Linked DNA regions of Homo sapiens. The protein of the gene in region 2 interacts with the protein of the main gene of each other region in a biochemical or structural test. Each region holds a gene or a part of one and is shown on either strand. Other genes may lie near its edges.

Evidence for each region.
Region 1: the proteins of RC3H1 (region 2) and UBE2V1 form a complex in vitro, tested with the Homo sapiens proteins (one study listed by BioGRID).
Region 3: the proteins of RC3H1 (region 2) and UBE2G1 form a complex in vitro, tested with the Homo sapiens proteins (one study listed by BioGRID).

The regions. Positions count from the first base shown.
Region 1 is NC_000020.11:50,110,108-50,117,851, forward strand, and holds the start of UBE2V1 (ubiquitin-conjugating enzyme E2 variant 1), read right to left. Parts: upstream 3,044-7,744; 5' UTR 3,022-3,043; coding exon 3,000-3,021; intron 1,456-2,999; exon of another isoform or gene 1,182-1,455; intron 1-1,181. UniProt on the Homo sapiens protein: Has no ubiquitin ligase activity on its own. The UBE2V1-UBE2N heterodimer catalyzes the synthesis of non-canonical poly-ubiquitin chains that are linked through Lys-63.
Region 2 is NC_000001.11:174,019,358-174,026,551, forward strand, and holds the start of RC3H1 (roquin-1), read right to left. Parts: upstream 3,001-7,194; 5' UTR 2,739-3,000; intron 1-2,738. UniProt on the Homo sapiens protein: Post-transcriptional repressor of mRNAs containing a conserved stem loop motif, called constitutive decay element (CDE), which is often located in the 3'-UTR, as in HMGXB3, ICOS, IER3, NFKBID, NFKBIZ, PPP1R10, TNF, TNFRSF4 and in many more mRNAs.
Region 3 is NC_000017.11:4,363,654-4,371,378, forward strand, and holds the start of UBE2G1 (ubiquitin-conjugating enzyme E2 G1), read right to left. Parts: upstream 3,023-7,725; 5' UTR 2,664-3,022; coding exon 2,618-2,663; intron 1-2,617. UniProt on the Homo sapiens protein: Accepts ubiquitin from the E1 complex and catalyzes its covalent attachment to other proteins. In vitro catalyzes 'Lys-48'-, as well as 'Lys-63'-linked polyubiquitination. May be involved in degradation of muscle-specific proteins.

The DNA.
Region 1 (7,744 bases), on a different chromosome or scaffold from region 2:
AGGGCTTACCCCTCTGGCACTCATTTTCTGATTAAATGTCAGGGAAGCTCGTGGGCTGCTGAGTGAGAGGAAGGGCCTGGCAACCAAGGGCCACTATTTGATGTGCTGCAATCCTGGCCAAGGCAGGAGGAAGTCACCCGTCATAACATGGGGATTCTGAGGATCTGTGGTGGGCTTTTCACAGTTCCACCCTCTAAGACATATGTAGATATCACACATTGCAGAACCAAAGGAAGTGGGAAGGTGGTGTAGCCAAATGCTGAAAGCAGTGACCATAAAAAACTAAGTTCAGCCCTTACAGGAACTCAAAGGCTTCACAGCTGTTTCCTGGCAACCGGAGGCACAGATTAATCAAGAGCCTCACTCTAAACCTGACTAAGGAAGGCCTCTGGGCCCTGACCACACCTGGAAGACTTCTCAGGGTTAGAAAGCAGAGAGGCCTGTACACTCATTTTAGTTTACCCCAAGTAAGGTCTGCTTTACTCTTAGCACCCTGCACTCTTTTCACTGCCTAGGGACGAAGGTCAGATCTTATCATACTCCTCTTTTTAAGACTCTTATTCATTCATTCAACAAATATTTACTGAATGCCTACTTCATACCAGACACTTGTTTGATGGCTTCCCCTCATACCATCTCAAATCCAAAGCCATGTCTCTCCAACTCATCTCCTTAACAAGCCTTGCTTGCACATGAAGGCCTTTTATCCTGTTATTTCAACATGCCAAGCAGAGTCCCACCACAGGGCCTTTGCACTAACAGCCCACTCTCTCTCCTGCCTGTGACACTGTAGGGTTAGCTCTTTCCATTATTTGACTCAGCTGAAATGTCACTTTCCTGACCACCTCTCCAGACACTATCACATCACACAATTTCCTCCATAGCACTTACTGCTATCTGAAATTGTCTTATTTACTCCTTAACAGCCTTCTCTCCCTGACTTGAATGGAAGCTCCCGAAGGATACAGACTATGTCCATTTTGTTTGCTATCCACGATGGGACATAATAGGCCCTCAGTAAATATCTGTTGAATAAACAGACAAAAGAATTTTGGGAAGTCCATTTTAGGGCACCTCAAAGCCTGTCCTATGTTATCTAAACCATGCCAAGTGCTCTTGTATTCCACTAGACAGCAGCTGACATTTTATCTGATCACCATAGCCATTTATGAAGCACTCACTTTTTAACTGTCAGGGTCTGGAGAAGTTAGAACCGGGCAGCTGTTAACCCAGATTGTAGGTAGCCAACCGAGTGACTGCAAGCAGGGCTGAGCTGCAACAGCACCTTATTGCTGGCTACCACCAGCACACTGGGCCCCTTCGTTTATTACGACCCGGTAGGAGTGTTATTCTGGTGAGAAGTTTTACCCAGCAGTCTGGCCTGACTCAGAATCTCTCTTCTGGGAGTGCCTGGGGCAGCGTCATGGTAAATGAATTGACTCAGCACTGTTCCAGCTGAAACCAAAATCGAGTAAAAGGATTCATGGTCTCCGCTATTCTGCAAGAAGACCCCACTGTTTTAAACTCAAAAGGCAGCAGCTTGTGGTGGGTCACTTCAGTCAGATCCCCCACATTCAATTTCTTTTATTCCCACCCCAACCATCAGGCAAGTATGGCTCCTTGAGACCGCAGAGTAGCAACATTTATAAAGAATTCCCCTCACCCTATTTCCCATGGATCACCAATTCCTTCCCAACACTGCCGCTGCTGTGGCCTTAAATATGCCAATGATTGCTGTACTCAGGCTGGTGTCCCTGCAGCCCCACAGTGGGGAACACTGTGGCCCTGTTTGCTTCCTCCATCAGAGAGGTAACCCATTTTCACCCCATCTGAGAGAACCTCCTTGGCCAACTTCACTGCCAGGCACCTGAGGGTGCAGCCTCACCCAAGAGTTCCCATTTCATCTATTCACCTCCCTACTCCCATCAGCCAGTGGGGAACTTCTGAGCTGAACCCACATATCTGTCCCAATTATTAAAGGAGTCGATGAGAGTGAGCGTCTCCACAGAAGAGACACTTCTAGGATATGCTTCCCTCACTCAATTCAAAAAGAGGAGACTTTTCTCCTTTACAGGAAACATCTCCGGAACCCGACCTTTTCCACTCCCTCATTTCAGGGGCTTCCCTCAGTTGAATCCCCACTCCCAAAGAGACATCCTCGGGGCTCCCAATTCATCTGTTCTCCCTCATCCAATATCAGAGGCTTCCACCAACTGCCCCACTCGGACCTTGTCCCCTGAAACCTAACTTGAAGCAATCCATCTGTATCCTCGAACAGGAGACTGGTAATGATGGGGTCATTTCACTATCACCGCTATTAGGTCCCTCTGGCATCTGAATCCTTTTCCCTCCTCTCACTTATCATGCGGAGACCCCCTTCATTCTCCCCAAAAGCAGCTGCTCCAAGGCTCCTCCTTTCTAGTCAACATAGCTATTTCCTCAGCTAACCCCATCTCTAAAACTAACGCCGGAGCCGTTCCCTCAACCGATAGGGGATCCTCTCAAGTCACCCCCTCAGGATCCCGTTTCTTCCATCCAGCCTGAAGGGCTTCTCTGATGTCCCCTCCAGACATCCCAAGGCCCCTCTCAGCCGCACCCCTGGCACCCAGTATGGGACTTCCATCCGCTGTGGGGCGCCTCCTCTAGGGGACCTCTAGATCGCCCCTTAAGAGTCGCCAGCCCCGGTATCCTCAGGAGTGCCTCGGAGCTCGCTCCTCGCCCACTCCGGCTCCCCCAGACAGCACAGAGGGCCCTCACGCCTCCCGGGGGAGCCTCAGGGCCTCGCCGCGCCGCCCACAGGCCCCTCAGCCCCCCGCCCGTGCTTCCGGCCACCGCCTGCTCCTCCTCCCCCGGTCAGGCCGCGCCGGTGGCTGCCGCGGAGCCCAGCAGACAGAGGCGGCGCGGGGACCCTGGCTCCGCTGCAGGAGGCTTTGAGGGTCCCCGGCCCCCGGCCCAAGCCCATGCCCCCTCGGCCGGCCGGGCCCGGCGCCCCCGCTCACCCGAGCCCGTGGTGGCTGCCATCTTGCGTCGCTCTTGCTTGAAGGCCGGCCCCTTCTTCACCCCCCCCTTACCCGTCCCCCGGCCCTGATGCGCAGGCGCGCGCGCACGCACATACGCCGCCGCTGACGCCCGCCCCGGAGACCTGCACGACCCGTGGCCTGGAAGGCTCTTTTCCTTCCCTTTTAGAGAAAGGAAATATCTGCGTGCTCGAGGGCCCAGCAACCTGCAAGTCCCCACACATCGGGTGCGAGGGAGGTTGTGATGTGCTTAGTGAGAAGGGCAGGGGTGACTAGGCTTGGGAAGGCGCGATTGTGAAAGAAAAAGAAAATATAGCTTCAAACAAAAGCGCCGAATTCGCTTGGGGCTTTTTCCTGTCTAGTTCCTATCTAGATCCTCACCACATCTCCGCAAGGTCAGAATTAATGTGAAAAATGCAGCCGAGAGAGATCAAGCGATTTATCTAAACTCAGCTGTTAAGTGGCAGAGACAGGCAGAATTTTAACCTCCAGGTTCAAATTTTTTGAATCATCACCCTCCAGGTCAGATGATCTGGCTCCTAGGATTGATGCTCCCCGGCCAGAGAAGGCTTGGAGTGGGTGCAGCTAAATGATTTAGGGGCATTAAGGTGGCAGGGAAAGCATTTGCTAACCATCTACCCAATTCATTCATTCATTCATTCATTCATTCGTTCATTCATTCATTCAACCAAACAAACAAACATTAAGCACCTACTATGTACCAGACACTGTGCTAGGCGCTGGGGATGGATAGACATCTCTGAAGAAGCAAATCCCTGCTTTCAGGGACTTACATTCTAGTCGTAGACAGCAAGTAAATAAACAGGAAACTATAATTCTGATAGGGTAGAGATAAACCAAGACAAGAGCAGCAGAGGATGGTCAGGAAGGGCCTCCTAAGGTGGTCATATTTCAGCAGAGACCGTAACAATGAGGAGGTAGAGGGAACAGCTTGTGCAAAGGCCCTTGGGAAATATTTTTGCAAATAAATAAACCCAAGAAGGTACTCCTCCTTTATTATAAATTGTCTGAGAAGCCCTTATATGGATGTAGACACTGAGGCTGAGAGAGGTGAAGGGACTGGCTTAAGGTCACAGAGCAAAATACTGGCAGAAGGACCAGGACTCTAAACATAGAGGGACAAGGAAGCTGGAAGCCCTCACCCAGCACATCCAATTCATCACCTTTGTCTGATAGCAGTGCCTACTCTGCATCTCTCCACTCCGTTCACTTCTCCACTCAGGGCAAGCTGCCTTTATCTCCCACTTGGAAGACCCCAGCAGCTTCCATTCTCTCCCCTATGGCCCATTCTCCATATAGACCAACATCTGCTCAAAACACCCTCCAGCTAAAGCCTTCAGTGGCTCCCCATTCCCTCTGGATAAAATACAAACTTTACAAGTTGAGCGACCATAGAATTATCACCTAATGAGGACACACATCAGATTAAAAGGGGACTTATTATAATCTCACCAGGACAAGTGGAAACCAGGGCTCTCCAGGGCAAAGCAGGATGCCTGGACACCCTGTGCACCAGGCTCTGCACCCAGGGCAGGGACGAGGATGGGGTGGTCAGATTTAACGGGGCTTTCACTCAGGTCCTGACTCCGCACTTGCACAGCGCTGCAGGTGAGTGACTCCTTAAAATCTGCACCCTAGGGCAGGGCATGGTGGCTCACACCTGTAATCCCAGCACTTTGGGAGGCCGAGGTGGGCAGATCACCTGAGGTCAGGAGTTCCAGACCAGCCTGGTCAACATGGTGAAACCTCGTCTCTACTAAAAATACAAAAATTAGCGGGGCGTGGTAGCACACACCTGTAATCCCAGCTACTCGGGAGGCTGAGGCAGGAAAATCGAGCGAACCCGGGAGGCAGAGGTTGCAGTGAGCTGAGATTGCACCATTGCATTCCAGCCTGGGCAACAGAGAGAGATTCAGTCTCAAAAAAAAAAAAAAAATCTGCACCCTAGGTACCCCACTTGCCTCACCATAGCCTTGGCACAGCCTGCGCCTCTGAGACTTTCTGTACCTCTGCGGCGACACTGGCCCTTTGCAAGCCCCCTGGAACACATGCCCTCTCCCACTTCAGGGGCTTTGCCTGTGCTGTTCCCACTCTTCAGTTCTCAGATCCAGCACCATCCCCTCAGGGAAGCCTTCCTCGATTCCTCCAACCACATCAAATTCAGCTATAATTAGCTCTCAAAGTGCCAGCACTGGCTACAGGTGAAGCAACTTGACTTTTCGTGTATCACGTGATACAAGTTTGCTTTGGGGAGCACAGAAAATACTTGCCCTGGACTTGGGGTCACTGTAAAGCATCAGTAGCAAGTGGAAGCATTTGGGTTCCTAAGGTGGACTCACCTTTGCAGTGAAATTTTCTAGGTTCAAGTCTTCCTTCATCACTCAGTTTGCTTTGTGACTTCAGGTAAGACGCTTGAACCTCTCCTGGCATCAGTTTCCCCTTCTATGAGGATAGTAGTATCAACCTCATAGGATTGCTGTGGAGATAAAATGCTTTCCTAAAACCCCTTGGGCACAGGGAAGAGGAAGGGACACTAGAAGAGCTCATAATTACCAAGCCGTTACATCCAACTTTTAATCCTCACAACTCGATGCAGCAACTCCTGTGAATATCCCCATTTTTAGAGATGAGAAAACTGAGACTCAGAGCTAACAGGTGGAGAGGATGAGGATTAAAACACAAGCCTTTTATCTATGGTGCCCGTAAATGTTTACTCGCATGGATTCCTTGGCTCTTGTAGGAAACTTCTTGCAAGTAAAATTGACAATAATAATTCCCGTGCCGAGCTCATCGCAGGAAGAGGTTAGGCGGGACAGCCCGAGGCATGCTGGTTGTTGTAGTCTAGCGTTGGCGCAGTGCCTGATGGGAGTTGTAGTACGTCCCGCGCACACGCTCCCTCGAAGAGTTTCTGCCCCATTCCTGGACGTCACAGCCGGTCCCCAGAGCAGGATTCCTTCCGGCGCCTGCGCCTGATCACCGCTCTGCGCTTGAGCTGATAAACTCAGCTGATGGGATAAGAGTCTTGTTTTATCGGATTTTGGGGAAGATTAAAATGGTTAATAGAACTAGAGAATTTAGAAGAGGGCTTGGCACTAAGTGCAATATAAGTATTAGCTGCTATTATTACCTAATCCTCAATGAACCTTGCAAAGTAGCTGTTACCATTTCCATTTGTGAGATGAGAAAACTGAGACTTAGAGGAGTTAGATGGCTTTTCCAAGGTCACACAACAAGGAAGGAGTAAAATCAGTTTTGGAATCCAGTTCTCTTTACCCTGTGTCACCCGCTGGCTCTCCCGTGATGAGGGAGGTGGAGCCTGGGAGGTTTTGAGCTAAATGTGGGCAGGTTTGCCTTTTTACAAAGTGCATCGTGCTGCCATGAGGAGACAGGGCGAGGACACCCAATTGGGCAGCAGCAATATTGGTAGCAGGGAACCCAGAGAGAAGGTGTATTGGGCATGTTTACCGCCATTCCAGTCGCCATGGCCCCACATGGCAAGGTGGGTGTTTGGAAACTTTCCCTCCCCTCATAAAAGCTGAAGAGAAGGTTGGGCGCCCTGGTTCACACCTGTAATCCCAACACTTTGGGAGGCCGAGGCGGGCGGATCACCTGAGGTCAAGATTTCGAGACCACCCTGGCCACAATGGCAAAACCCCGTCTCTACTGAAAATACAAAAATTAGCCGAGCTTGGTGGCTCAGGCCTGTAATACCAGCTACCCGGGAGGCTGAGGCACGAGAATCGCTTGAACCTGGGAGGCAGAGGTTGCAGTGAGCCAAGATCGTGCCATTGCACTCCAGTCTGAGCGACAGAGCGAGACTGTCTCAAACAAAAAAGCTGAAGAAAAAGCCTATTTTTGTCCCCTTTCCTCCTTCCTACAATATGAGGTTGTAATGGTTAGAATTAGAATCCTGGGTGATGTGGCTGAGCTGCTGAAGGAATTGCAGGGCTGCCCAACTGCAGACATCTGAAGACATGAGATAATGTGCCTGTTGCTTAAGTTGTTCTTAAAGGTAGGTTTTTGTTACCTACCACCAAAAAGCATACCTAATAGATACAGGAAGCTGACGCAGTGGTTCGGTTGAGAGGCATGTAGACCTGACAGATCCACAATGTCCATTCGTGAACTCTCTTTTCAAGTGGGAAAACACTAGGGCTGGTTTGGAATCTCTGGGATGTAAAAGGCATGAGTAGTTTGAAAAAGTATATTCAAAAGGTGAAAAAACAAAAATTATATAATGTTATCCACAACCTTCAATTTCCTATTTATAGTTAAGGAACCCCCCCAACCTCGTGCTACAGTTTTTGTAGCATAAGCTGCAGAAAGTAAAGCTGACAAACTGTCGACAGGAAGGACTGTGGACTTGCAGAAGACAGAGAGGAGAAGGGATGTGTGGTTAACAGAGTGTGTGATGAGGCCGGGCATGGTGGCTCACACCTGTAATCCCAGCACTTAGGGAGGCCAAGGCCGGTGGATCACCTGAGGTCAGGAATTCGAGACCAGCCTGGCCAACATGGTGAAACCCCATCTCTACTGAAAATAGAAAAATTAGCCGAGCATGGTGGCTCATGCCTGTAATCCCAGCTACCCGGGAGGCTGAGGCAGGAGAATCACTTGAACCTGGGAGGCAGAGGTTGCTGCAGCATTGCACTCCAGGTTGGGCAACAAAGCGAAACTCCATCTAAAAACAAACAAACAAACAAACA
Region 2 (7,194 bases):
ACACATGTGGTAGTGGCAAAGAATCTAATTTGTGTCACAAGATCTGAGTCTGAGTAAGCTCTTTTACCTATTAATTATGTGATCTTTTTGCTGGTTACATAGCTACTCTTAGCTTCACATTCTTCATATGAAAAAATGAGGACAACAGAACTAATACTGCAGCATAATGAGGAAGCTTAAATATTTTTATTCATTCAACAAATATGTTCTGAAAGGCGTTGTGTACAAATTACCCTTTTTTATTTCTTCAAATAAATCAAGCATATATTAACTTTTAATATTACCAAGAAAATATAAATCTAATTCTTAAGCTCTGGTTCCAAAACTTCTTAGAAGTAAATTTTTATTACCTGAGAAAATGTGAACTTAAGTAATAAGTATTGATACTGAAGAAGGGACAGTTGAGTTTGTGTCAAAACTTAAAACTGTTTTGACACAAAATAAATAAAAACAATTCCCTAAATTTTTTTCCTATTGAACAGAAATACGGACCCAGACTAAGCCCATAAATTGCTGGGTCAATAACCAATCTGAAATACAAAACCTTACCACTTAAAAATATTTATTTTCAGGAAAATGATATTAAATATGAGGTAAATCTGCCCTTGACATAACACGGTGAGATTGTTTTCATAACACAGCACATGAACCACTTAAAACTTACAACCTATAAATTACTACAATTGTTCTAATAGGTTTAGGGCCATACATAAATTTAAGTATCATTATAACACAGACTTTACTTGGAATCTGTGCTGACCTAACAAAATTAGCACAGAAAAAAAAAAAAAATCACAGATTTGAGCACCTGAAAAACGGTGTCCTTTCTGAAATATCTGCAAAAAAGTCACAACATCAGGAGCCATAGAAAGTTGTTATTTCTCCATCATTCAAAAAATCAAAACATCTCCAACATTATTTATGCTAAGCATAAAATGAAGGTCAGTATTGATATTCATTCACTATACTTCAAATCCTAAACAAGAAAATTCAACCTTTATGTTTATTCAATTGCTAATCTATTCAGTGTCAATTGTTGTGGAAGAACTAAGAACTAGACTAGTGCTGCTTATAATGTTTTTAATTAGAACAGACTTGGACCAATTCTACTTAGAAATTTACCCTTAGAAGAGGTGAAAGATATTAACTGGCATCTTTTCAGCACAGGTCAGTGCTGAAAAGAACACAACCTATAACCCTTAGGCCTTGCAGTTGAATGTTAACAAGTGAAAAGCAATCTCCTTGGATGTATCCAAGCGATTTTAATATAAATTTCTGCATACCTAGGTAGAAAGTACTTTAGAAATAAATCTACCTTTTCCCTCACTTGTAAGAAAATGTGGTAGAAGCCTTGAAAAATTAAGTTTAAGGCTGAGCGAGGTGGCTCACGCCTGTAATCCAAGCACTTTGGGAGGCGGAGGAGGGCAGATGACTTGAGGTCAGGAGTTCCAGACCAGCCTGGCCAACATGGTGAAACCCCGTCTCTACTAAAAATACAAAAATCAGCCGGGCATGGTGGCGGGCGCCTGTAATCCCAGCTACTCCGGATGGTGAGGCAGGAGAATCGCTTGAATCCGGGAGGTGGAGGCTGTAGTGAGCCGAGATTGTGCCACTGCAATCCAGCCTGGGTGACAGAGCAAGACTCCGTCGCAAAACAAAACAAAAACGAAATCAAATTTCAAACTCAGAGAAAAGACTGGTCTTGAACAATTTCAGGAAAAATTACTGAAACACGAGACAAGGCACAAGAAGCTCTATGGCCGGAGATGAACCACCTGTCTCCTTTCGAAGTGCTTCCTGAGGTCCACTTTATGCTAGTTAATGTTGCTTCTTATACTGCATGTTAGTAATTCAAAACGCCTAGCTGGAATAAAAGTCCTCTTTAAACATTACAGTTTGTCTCCGCGTTGCCAGTGTTTGTTTCCAGTTTCATAGGCTATTCTGGTATGTCAAGAGTTGTGTTATTACTGTTCCAAAAGAGCCCTTGTTTCAATCCACTCTCACCTGGGATGCGGGCATAACTGATGTTTATAGAACTGATACTTAGAGATGTTTAGAGAGGCGCATCCCTTACCACTCCATCCTTTACCGATAACCACATTTTATATGTTTTTGTTGCATTTAAGTTTTTTGTTTTTTTTTTTTAAAGACACCTGCACACACACAATTTTCCCATCGCCAGCAGGGAGAAGACTACCAGGCTAGATCTCCAGGGACTTCAGGGAAACAGACACCGTGAAATCCACTTGGCCAAAGAAGGGGAGCGCTTCAGGGGCTGGGGGAGGAAGCAGCCCTGAGGTGCTGGGAGGCCGAGGCGGCGCCTGTTTACAGACGCCTTCGCCCTCCCCCACCCCCACAGACTAGGGGTCCAAAAAGCAGTTCCCGTGCGCATTCCCCGCCTGGCCCAGGCCCTGGGAGTACCACAGGAGCCAGGTAGCCCTTTCGCCCCCTCCCTCTCGTCCGAGCCTCCCTTCGTCCTCCTCTCGGCCTACCTACCCCGACAGGCCCTACAGGCGGCATGCAGAGGCCTGAGGCCTAAAGGACGCCGGCCACTGACAAGCCCCAGAACAGCCGGCGGGGGCCCTGAGGAGCCTGGGGCCGGCCGGGCTGCCGCTGCCGCGGAGGAGCAGAGGGCGGGCGAGGACAAACCCTTCCCGACCACAGCTGCCTATTGTTCCCGACTGAGGCCCCGGCCGCGGCAGCCCCGCTCCCCAAGTCGCCGCCCGCCGCTCGCTCACCGCGCTGGTCCGAGCAGCAGCTCCTCTCAGCTCCGAGTCCCCGCGGCCGTCGCCACCGCCGCGGCAGCCGCCGCCGCCGCCGAGGCCACCGTTGACTCTGATTCTGTCCCAGGCCGCCGGGCCACGGCTGCCGCCGCCACCGCCAGCACCGCCTCCGGCCTCCCACCTGCTGCTGCTGAGGCTGCTCCTGCAGCAGGGGCCATCTTGTTGCTCGGCCTCCTCTTCCTCCTCCTCGTCCTCCGCCGCCCAGTCGCTCGTTGTCCTCGTCCCCTTCCTCTTCCTCAGGCTCCGGCCCGCCCCGGAGACTGGGGCGGAGACGAGGGCGAGGATCCTCCCTCAGGAGGCGGGGCGGGCGGAGGGGAGGGGCGGGCGCGGGAGCAAAGCTCTGAGTCACCGGCCACCAACGCCCGGAGGGAGACCGGCGACGCTCTCCGCCGCGACCGAAAGTCTCACACGCCCTGAGCAGATGAACCGGTCCCTCGGTCCGGTCTGCCCTCCCGCACCGGCGCCTTTGGGCTCAGCGGGCCAGTGGCCAGATGGCGAGAGTAAATTGGGGGAATTTCTTTCGTTTCCATCGAACCCCACACTACGTCTACTCTTTCGGCTTTCTCAGCCGTTGTCCCCCAACTCTTGTTTCTTTTTCACGTCTTGTCCCCCACCCCATTTTTCTTCTTCCATATTATCCAGGTTCTGGATCTCATCAGCTTTGTCCTCGTCACCCCTCTGGGAGTTCAGCCTCCTAAGGCTGTGAAACAGCCCAAAAGGCCCGGACACGCTACTCCAAAACGTCTCTCCTGGGCTGTGTGAACAATAAGAGCTATTTGGGGACGACAGGAAAAGATATGGCCCATAGAAGGGCTCCTGAAATCTAACCTTGCGACTCTTTAAAAGTTTCTTGTCCCTTGTGGAAAAGGTGCCGTTTTGGTTTTGGGGAATGGGAGGTCCCTTCAGACAATTCATTTTAGCCAAACCCTCGCTTTTGAGAAGGGGAAGAAATGGGATTATTGTAACACCATACAGTACTAATTTCAAAATAAATCATCTAGAATAGAGGAGAGAGAGAGTCCCCAAATAAACAACCATTTAATACCTCTACTCGGCGCTATCACCTTTTTTGCTTCAGGATTTGACCAAGAGAGCAGAGATTATGTTTTTCTGTCCTTTCTTCACTGTTTACATCACAGTACCCCAAGAGAAGCACTTCTGCCTTTAACTTGATACATTGGAATCGCTATCACAGATAGTGTTTTTGTATTATTTTTAAGAAATATCACACACCTTCCTAAACTCTTGGCAGAGAAGAATTCTTTTTAGTTGTTAGCACCCTCCTGCTACTGAGATCTCAGCTTCTGTTTAGAAGACCTATTGTTGTCTTTCCACTGATTGGAATTTGCTGCCTCTGAACTGGGTTTAATCTGTAATCGTCTTTTCAGCCTACTAAATAGTAACCCCAGTCCTACAGAGAGTGAATTTCTAGCTACCACAGGGGGATTTAGGTTAGCATGTGCCAATCTAAAGGGATCTCTTAAAGCCTTTCCCTTCTCAGACCAGGCCTCTGTACCCTGCTAGGAAAAACAGATTAATCTGCTCCTCCTGCTTTTCCTCCTCCTCCCTTCTTCTCACTCCTAGGGAACCTTCCACAACAGAAGGTTTTAGCGACTGTTGCTAGGCAAACATGCCAACTTCCTTGTTTAGGTGAAGCGAGTAACTCAACTTCCATTGCAAGTAACCTAGATAATGTAATTTCTTTGAACTATTAATAGTTATACCACAGTTGGTAAGGCTCCTTAAAGGTTCCCTTAAGCAGTATGATTTTTACGTTGTTTATTTTTATCTCGTCAATATTTCAATTAAAAATACGTTAAAGGACAGATAGATGCAGTGGCTCACGCCTGTAATCCCAACATTTTAGGAGGCTGAGGGGGGCGGATCACCTGAGGTCCGGAGCCTGACCAACGTGGAGAAACCCCATCTCTACTAAAAATACAAAAATTAGCCAGGTGTGGTGGCGTGCACCTATAGTCCTAGCTACTCGGGAGGCTGAGGCAGGAGAATCACTTGAACCTGGGAGGTGGAGGTTGTAGTGAGCCGAGATCACGCCATTGCACTCCAGTCTGGGCAAAAAGAGCTAAACTCTGTCTCAAAAAAAAAAAAAAAAAAAAAAAAAAAGTTAAAAATGGCGGCGCTTCCCCAAACCCAAATTCATTTTAGTGATATAAAGATGCATTTGACAGAAAAAGAAGAGCAGCTTTGAAGAAAACACTTATGCTTACAATAAAAAATAAAAAACTAATCTGTGAGAAGTCATATGTTTTCAACTCCCCAGTCAGACTAGAAGTGTAAGATACAGGGGATAAGGCCGGGAGCGGTGGCTCACGCTTGTAATCCCAGCACTTTGGGAGGCCGAGGCAGGCAGATCACGAGGTCAGGAGATGCAGACTATTCTGGCCAACATGGTGAAACCCCGTCTCTACCAAAAATACAAAAAGCCCGGCGTGGTGGCGCGCGCCTATAGTCCCAGCTACTCAGGAGACAGAGGCAGGAGAATCACTTGAACCTGAGAGGCAGAGGCTGCAGTGAGCCAAGATTGTACCACTGCACTCCAGCCTGGATGACAGCAAGACTCGGTCTTGGCAGAGCATTGTGGCCCACGCCTGTAATCCCAGCACTTTGGGAGGCTGAGGAGGGTGGCTCTCCTAAGGTCAGGAGTTCAAGACCAGCTTGGCCAACATGGTGAAACCCCGTCTCTACTAAAAATACAAAAAAATTAGCTGGGCGTGGTGGCAGGCACCTGTAATCCCATCTACTAGGGAGGCTGAGGCAGGAGAATCCTTTGAACCTGGGAGGCGGAGGTTGCAGTGAGCCGAGATCGTGCCATTGCACTCCAGCCTGGGCAACAAGAATGAAACTCCGTCTCAAAAAAAACACCAAAAATTAGCTGGGCATGGTGGTGCACGCTTGTAATCCCAGCTACTTGGGAGGCTGAGACAGGAGAATCGCTTGAACCTGGTAGGTGGAGGTTACAGTGAGCCGAGATCACGCCACTGCACTCCAGCCTGGCGACAGAGCAAGACTCCATCTCAAAAAAGAAAAAAAGAAAAAAAAAAGATACAGAGGATAATTTATCTCTTGAAATTGAGTCTATTTAAAATAAAGATAATATGAATATTCAGCAAGGGGGAAAAAAGATATTCTGGGTTTTATTCCTAAATTAACAATTATTTGAAAATTTAGCTAGGGAAATAAGCTTTTTTTAAAAATTTTATTTAAAATGTTTTTACTCTTGTTAGAGTATTGAGATTTGTTGTGAATTAATACAAATAAGATTAAATGAGGCTGAGCATGGCAGCTCATGCCTGTAATCCTAGCATTTTAGGAGGCTGAGGCAGGAGGATTGCTTGAGGCCAAGAGTTCAAGACCACCTGGCCAACATAGAAGACCTTGTCTCCATTTAATTAAAAAAAAATTTTTATAAAAGATTAATGACGCCAGGCAAGGTGGCTCACATCTGTAATCCCAGAACTTTGGGAGGCCGAGGCAGGCGGATCACCTGAGGCCAGGAGTTCGAGCCCAGCCTGGCCAACATGGCAAAGCCCCATCTCTACTAAAAATACAAAAATTGGCTGGATATGGTGGTACATGCCTGTAATCTCAGCTACTCAGGAGGCTGAGGCAGGAGAATTGCTTGAACCCGGGAGACGGAGGTTGCAGTGAGCCGAGATCACGCCACTGCACTCCAGCCTGGGTGACAGAGCAAGACTCTGTCTCAAAAAAAAAAAGATTAATGAGACACTATGTTGAAATTTAAATTATATAGATTTAAACTTCAGAACTCTTAAAATTTGTTTTAATCCACTGAAACTCATATTAATACACTGAAATAGTGTTTGAGAAGTGTCTTGAGCTTAGATTATATGTTAATTAAGAGTATATTACTTAAGATAAACAGCTTATATGTTTCATAGCCATTTGTGCTCAGAAATCACTATTTTGCTCACACCTGTAATCTCAGCACTTTGGGAGGCTGAGGTGGGCGGATCGCTTTGAGCTCAGTTGTTCCAGACCAGCCTGAGCAACACGGCAAAACCCCATCTCTACAAAAAGTACAAAAATTACCTGGGTATTGGTGGCTCATGCCTGTAGTCCCAGCTACTCAGCTACTCAGAAGGTTGAGGTGGAAAAATCAATTGAGCCTGGGAAGCAGAGGTTATAGCAAATGGAAATCATGCCACTGCGCTCCAGCCTGGGCTACGGAGTGGGAGCCTGTCTCACAAAAAAAAAAAAAAAAAAAAAAAAAATCACTATTTTGTAGCTTCAAGACAACTTAAACAAATTGTTTTATCTCATATTTTGTTAATAATTCTGATGTGCAATACCCATAAATTTAGACTCTGCCCTGGCTTCCACTACTGATACACTATGAAAATCAAATGAGTCATTTCATATAAAATATCAG
Region 3 (7,725 bases), on a different chromosome or scaffold from region 2:
ATGTAAGAATTCAGAGAGGCCGGGCCCGGTGGCTCACGTCTGTAATCCCAGCACTTTGGGAGGCTGAGACGGGCGGATCACGAGGTCAGGAGATCAAGACCATCCTGGCTAACACAGTGAAACCCCGTCTCTACTGAAAATACAAAAAATTAGCCGGGCGTGGTGGCGGGCGCCTGTAGTCCCAGCTACTCGGGAAGCTCAGGCAGGGGAATGGCGTGAACCCGGGAGGCGGAGCTTGCAGTGAGCCGAGATTGCGCCACTGCACTCCAGCTGGGCAACAGAGTAAGACTCCGTCTCAAAAAAAAAAAAAAAAAAAAAAAAAAAGATGCAGACGGGCACGGTGGCTCACGCCTGTAATCCCAATACTTTGGGAGGCCCAGGCAGGCGGATCACCAGGTCAGGAGTTCAAGACCAGCCTAGCCAGCACGGTAAAATCCCATCTCTACTAAAAATACAAAAAATTAGCCAAGCTTGGTGCCGCGCGCCTGTAATCCCAGCTACTCGGGAGGCTGAGGCAGGAGAATCACTTGAACCCAGGAGGCAGAGGTTGCAGTGAGCCGAGATCGCGCAACTCCACTCCAGCCTGGGCAATAGAGTGAGACTCTGCCTCAAAAAAAAAAAAAAAAATGCAATAAAGTTCTTTTTTTTTTTTTTTGAGACACAGTCTCGCTCTGTCGCCCAGGCTGGAGTGCAGTGGCGCCATCTCGGCTCACTGCACATCCGCCTCCCGGGTTCACGCCATTCTCCTGCCTCAGCCTCCCGATTAGCTGGGACTACAGGCGCCCGCCACCACGCCCGGCTAATTTTTGGATTTTTAGTAGAGAAAGGGTTTCCCCGTGTTAGCCAGGATGGTCTCGATCTCCTGACCTCGTGATCCGCCCGCCTCGGCCTCCCAAAGTGCTGGGATTACAGGTGTGAGCCACCGCGCCCGGCCCTTCTTTTTTTTGAACAGAGTCTCGCTCTGTTGCCCAGGCTGGAAAGCAATGGCGCGATCTCAGCTCACTGCAACGATGCCTCCCGCGTTCAAGCAATTCTCCCGCCTCAGCCTCCTGAGTAGCTGGGATTACAGGCGCCCTCCGCCACGCCCGAATAATTTTTTGTATTTTTAGTAGTGACGGGGGTTTCACCACTTTGGCCAGGCTGGCCCTGAACTCCTGTCCTAAGGTGATCCGCCAGCCTCGGCCTCCCGAAGTGCTGGGATTACAGGCGTGAGCCAGCGCGCCCGGCCTCAGTGCTTTTCCAGCACATAATTTTTATGAGTATCCTGTAGTATCATTAGAACTTCTCCATTTACTGCAAGCTAACTCCCCCTGAGCATCTAGAACTTTAATACTTGTCCAAACCTGCTTGCTCATGGTCTAATAATAAACCCAATTATACAATCTGTAAGAACCCCTGACAACCTTTTCCTTAAGAAGCCATAAAGGTGATTTAACGAACACCTCAAACTCTTAGTAAATGTATTTCAAAAACAGATTTCATCACTCCAGTCTTTGGCTTCTGCTGAGGGCTAGAGGCTACTGGTTTTAGAGTGGGTAGGGGGAAGATCGCTTGAACTGAGAATGACACACGCCGGGTGTTGTACAGCAGGGGTAAGTGCTGGTTCATTTCTCTTTAAATCTGGCAGCACGTGGGGCTGCATTGTGAAGCCACCAACCCGCCTCCCCCCTTCCACTCCGCACACGGACGTCTCCACTGCGCATGCTCCGCGCACACAGTCCTAGCAGAGTAGGAGCCAACCCCCTAAAAAGTCAACCTGGAAGCCGCAAACGGCCGGAGGCCGGGACAATGGGGGAGGGGGGCCGCAGGCTCCTCGGGGAGGCCGACCCGGCCGCCGCCCCGGGCCAGAGCCTGCGGGCGCAGCTCCGGGGTTTGCAGGCCTGCGCAGCAGCCGGAATCGCGGCGAGCACAAAGCCCGGAGCCGGCCAGCGAGCGGCTCTCCCCGCGGCCCGCTCCTACCCTCCCCCAGCCGGGCGGCGCAGCCGGAGCCCGTGCCAGGCGGAGGCAGGCGAGGCGGCGATCCGCACTCCGCCAGGGTCTCCGGCACCCTCGCGCCCGCGTGGAGGCCGCCGAGGCCAGCGCTTTTGTTGTCGGCCCCAACTCCGCGGACCCAGCGCCGCCCGGGGAGAAGTTTTGTGCGCCTCACCTATCCCGCCAGGGCCGGTCCCTTCCGCCCGCCCTCAGACACCGAGCCGGGGACTCGCAGCCGCACTGGGTCCGGACGCTCCAGCCGGCCCCGAAGGTCCGGCGGCCCCGGCAGCACCTGAACCCGGGACCCGCCCCTCCAAGCTGGCGGCCCCGGCCTGGGGACCCGCACACAGCCCCTCCCCCGCAACGTCCTACAGAACGGTGGGGGAGGGGACCTCCTCCTCTCCGACCCCCCGGGCGCCAGGCCCAGTCCCTGGGCCGGAGCTGGGTCGCGTCCCCGCCCCCAGTGCCCTCCAAGAGCCGGGCGAGAACGGCTGGGCCCGGCCGGGACCGGAGCCTCGAGGTCCCCACCCTCGCAGGCCCGGGCCCCTTCGGCAGTACGGCCGCTGGCCCGGGAGGAGAAGAGGGACTGGGCTGCGGCTGTCCGCGATCGCGGCCGGGCCCGGCGCCCCGCCGCCCGCCTGCTCACCTGCCAGCTGTCTTCGCAGTAGCAGTGCCGACTGCAGCTCCGTCATCCTCCCTGCCGAGGGCCCGGGCTGGCGCCGGGGCTTCCGAAGGGCTGGGGACAGGCTCTGGGGGCGGCTGGAGCGGGGTGTGCCGAGGAACCCGGGCCCCGCGACCGGAGCGCCGGAGCCGAGGAAGGCCGGGCTGAGGCGGCGGGAGCGGCGCCTCGCTGCCGGTGCGAGTCCGCTCGCTTCAGCTCTTTTCACAGCGACTCACGCCCGGAAGGGGAGGGTGCCCGGGCTGCCGCGGCGCGCACTGGGACTTCGCTCGCCCGCTTCCCTCCTTCAACCCGCCCGTCGGCCCCACCGGTGCCTTCCCCCGCCACTGCCTCACTGCGCGCAGGGCCGCTCGGCGCAGGCGCGCTGAGACTGCCGACTTGGGAAGCGTCCCGCCCGCTAGCCCGACCCCTCGGCCTCCCGCCCCGCCCCCGGCGGCGGAACCCCGCCCCTTGAGCGCAGTTGTCCCGTCCGCCGCCATTTTGGGAAGGTCGACGCCCGGCTGCCAGCCCAAGCCTCCGCTGGTAGACGCCCCGCGGACGCCATGACAAAGAGGTCGCAGAGGGTCAAATACAGCCTCTGGATTGAAGCAGTGGATATAGGAGCGAAGAGGCCAGAAGAAGTGGTAGATGTCTAGTCCTTGGCGAGCGCCCAAAAGCCATCTAACACTGCCACATGGTGTGCGAAGTAGGAATTGTTAGAAAGCCGAAGTTAGTACTGGTGTGCCCCATTTTAACCAAACATCAAAATAGAGGCAATATATGATGATAACTCACTTTACATGAAGAGTGCACAAAAAAAGCCACCGCGTCCGGCCCTATTATTATTGAGCCACCGAGACCGGCCCTGTTATTATTATCATTTATGGACGGCAATTCTCTCTGTCGCCCAGGCTGGAGTGCAGTGATCATAGCTCACTGCAGCTTGGAACTCCTGGGCTTAAGGGATCCTCCCATCTGAGTCTCCTTAGTATCTGGGATTACAGGTACACACCACCATGCCCTGCTATTTTTTTATTTGCTTTATAGAGATCGGGGGGTTTGACGGGGCGCGGTGGCTCATGCTTGTAATCCCAGCACTTTGAGAGGCCGAGGTGGGCAGATCACCTGAGGTCACGAGTTCGAGACCATCCTGGCCAACATGGTGAAACCTGGTCTCTACTAAAAATACAAAAATTAGCCCAGCCTGGTGGCAGGCGCCTGTACTCCCAGCTACCAGGGAGGCTGAGAAAGGAGAATTGCTTGAACCTAGGAGGCAGAGATTGCAGTGAGCCGAGATGGTGCCACTGCACTCCAGCATGGCCGACAGAGAGAGACTCCGTCTCACAAAAAAAAAAAAAAAGGAGGGGGGGGCCAGAGGTCTCTCTGTGTTGCCCAGGCTGGTCTCAAACTCCTGGGTTCAAGCAGTCCTTCCAACTCGGCCTCCCAAAGTGTTAGCATTACAAGTGTGAACCACTGCCCCCTATCAAATAGACCAAAGGGACCATTTTGATATTTCACTTTACCAAATCAAGGAAATTTACTTCTATTCCTAGTTTCTTTCTTTTTTATTTTATTTATTTATTTATTTATTTTTTGAGACAGCCTTGTTCTGTCGCCCAGGCTGGAGTGCAGTGGCGTGATCTTGGCCCACTGCAACCTCTGCCTCTCAGGTTCCCGAGTTAAAGCAATTCTCCTGCCTCAGACTCCTGAGTAGCTGGGACTACAGGCGCACGCCTCCAGGCCAGGCTAATTTTCTTTCGTATTTTAGTAGAGATGGGGTTTTACCATGTTGCCCAGGCTGGTCTCGAACTCCTGAACTCAGGCAATCCGCCTGCCTCAGCCTCCCAAAATGCTAGGATTATAGGCAAGGGCCACTGTGCCCGGCCTATTCCTAGTTTCTTAAGATTTATTTTTTGTAAAAAAAAAAAAAAAAAAGATTTATTTTTTGTAATAATTTCCAAATCTGGTGAAAGATCAGGGCTGGATAAAGGTTTAGAAATTGAACCTAATCCTTAAACAGTGGGAGGCCCCTGAAAAGTTTTAACTAGGAGTAGAAAAATAGCAGACTTGCATTTTGAATGTTTTGCTGTGGCTGCAGAGAATTGATGAGGGAGGGAGGGTCAAGACCAGTGCCCTGCAGGCTGTGGTGGCTCTCATCTGTAATCCCAGCTCTTTGGAAACTCCACGCAGGAGGATCACTTGAGGCCAGGAGCTAGAGACTAGCCTGGGTGACAGAGCAAGACCCTATCGCTACAAAAAAGTGTGTTTTGTTTTGTTTTGAAACAGTCTCCCTCTGTCGCCCAGGCTGGAGTACAGTGGCACAATCTCAGGTCACTGCACCTCTGCCTCCCTGGTTCAAGTGATTCTCGTGCCTCAGCCTCCTGAGTGGCAGGGATTACAGGCCTGTGCCACCATGGCTGGAGAATTTTTGTATTTTCGGTAGAGACAGAGTTTCACCATGTTGGCCAGGCTGGTCTTGAACTCCTGGGCTCAAGTGATCCACCCGCCTCAGCCTCCTAAAGTGATGGAATTGCAGGCATGAGCCACTATGCCCAGCCCAAAATATTTTTTTAATAAACATTTTAAAATTTTAATAAAAATTTTTAAAGCCTGGAGACCCTTATGGAGATTGTGGCAGTAACTAAGACTTGGATTAAGGAGTGTCCATAAAATATTTAGGCCTTGGTGGCCAGGCGAGGTGGCTCACGTCTGTAATCCCCGCACTTTGGGAGGCCGAGGCGGGCAGATCACCTGAGGTCAGGAGTTCGAGGCCAGCCTGACCAACATGGAGAAACCCCGTCTCTATTAAAAATACAAAATTAGGGCCTAGGGCAGTGGTTCACTCCTATAATCCCAGCACTTTGGGAGGCCAAGGCAGGTGGATCACGAGGTCAGGAGGTCAAGACCAGCCTCACCAACATAGTGAAACCCCGTCTCTACTAAAAATACAAAAATTAGCTGGGCGTGGTGGCCAGCTAATAGTAGTCCCAGCTGCTTGGGAGGCTGAGGCAAGAGAATCGCTTGAACCCAGAAGGCAGAGGTTGCAGTGAGCCGAGATCGCACCACTGCACTCCAGCCTGGGCGACAGAGCAAGACTCTGTCTCAAAAAAAAAAAAAAAAAAAAAGGCGAAATTAGCCGGGCGTGATGGTGCATGCCTGTAATCCCAGCTACTTGGGAGGCCGAAGCAGGAGAATTGCTTGAATCCGGGAAGGGGAGGTTGCTGTGAGCTGAGATTGTGCCATTGCACTCCAGCCTGGGCAACAAGAGTGAAACTCCGTCTCAAAAAAAACAAAAAACGAAAAAACAAAGAATATGTAGGCCTTGGTGATCTATGGGATATAGGAAAGAGCAGGGAGCACCACAGGTGACTCTCCTGACCCGGGTGACTGGGTGCCATTGGTATGACAGACCAAGTCCAAGGAGTGGGTCTCGCTTTGTTGGTTAGGCTGGTCTCAAACTGGTCTCAAGCGATCCTCCCGCCTTGGCCTCCCAGAGTGCTGGGATTACACGCGTGAGCCACTGCACCTGGGCCCTCTTGCTTTTGAGGTTAATGCCATCCAGCTGCAGCACTTGCCACTCCCCTTTGGTGCTGTGACCTGCAGACCCATTCATCATGGACTTTTCCTCCTGCCTCAGAGCCCTTCTCTTCATTCTACTCCAGCCCTCCACCTTGGGGACCTAATTACCCACATGAATGACCCGTCCGGTACCCCTGCCTCTCACCACTTGACTTCCTCTCCTTCCCTTCCCACCAGCTGGCCTCTCCGTGTTCCCGTGGGACAGTCTCGCCACCCAAAATTCCACCACACCCCAGTACTTGGTTTCAAGCCACGCACCCTGACCACCATTCCTTATCCTTCCAGCTTACTGGCTTTAGCGTTCACGCCACACAGCTCTTCCACACCAACAAGACCCCATTCTGTGTACCACTTTTTTTTTTCTTTTCTTTTTAAAACAGAGTCTCGCTCTGTCAACCAGGCTGGAGTGCAGTGGTGCGATCTCGGCTCACTGCAGCCTCCGCCTCCCGGGTTCAAGTGATTCTCCTGCCTCAGCCTCCCGAGTAGCTGGGACTATAGGCGCGTGCCACCATGCCTGGCTCTTTTTTTTTGTATTATTGGTAGAGATGGGGTTTCACCATGTTAGCAAGGATGGTCTCAATCTCCTGACCTCGTGATCTGCCCACCTCGGCCTCCCAAAGTGCTGGGATTAGAGGTATGAGCCACCGCGTCCAGCCCTGTTTACCACTTTTTTACTATCTGTCATTTCCTTCCTGTTCTCCTCTTCCTTCTCTTCTGAGCTTAGAGAGTAGTCCATTACTACAACCCTTCTCTTCATACGCCCTCAACAAACTTGGCTGTTTGTCTCCTTCTCTCACCATTTTAGTGCCTGGCTGATCCTCAAGCCTGAATGAACGCTTGCACACCCAACTGTCTAACTATTGCTTTATTTAACAAACATTTACTGAGCAACTGCTATGAGCTAGACACAATCCTAGGACTCAAGGTCTAGGTGTAAACTACACTGACCAGGTTCCTACCTCATGACAGTAACATCTAATGGGACAGAATAGTCAAAAAGTAAACAACAGCCAGGCGTGGTGGCTCACGCCTATAATCCCAGCAATTTGGAAGGCCGAGGTGAGTGGATCACCTGAGGTCAGGAGTTGGAGACCAACCTGGCCAACATGGAGAAACCCTGTCTCTACTAAAAATATAAAAATCAGCCGAGCATGGTGGCACATGCCTTTAATTCCAGCTACTCGGGAGGCTGAGGCACAAGAATCACTTGAACCCGGGAGGCAGAGCTTGCAGTGAGCTGAGATCAGAGTGAGACTCCATCTCAAAAAAAAAAAGAAGTAAACAACTATTAAGGTCAACATTTGTTCAGGCCTGGTAGCTCACGACTGTAGTACCAACACTTAGGGAGGTCGAGGCAGTCAGATCTCTTGAGCCCAAGATTTCGAGACCAACCTAAGCAACAAGGTGAGGCCGCATCTCTACAGAAAATTTAAAAACTGTCCGGGTGCGGTGGCTCATGCCTATAATCCCAGTACTTTGGGAGGCCGGGGCGGGTGGATAACCTGAGGTCAGGAGTT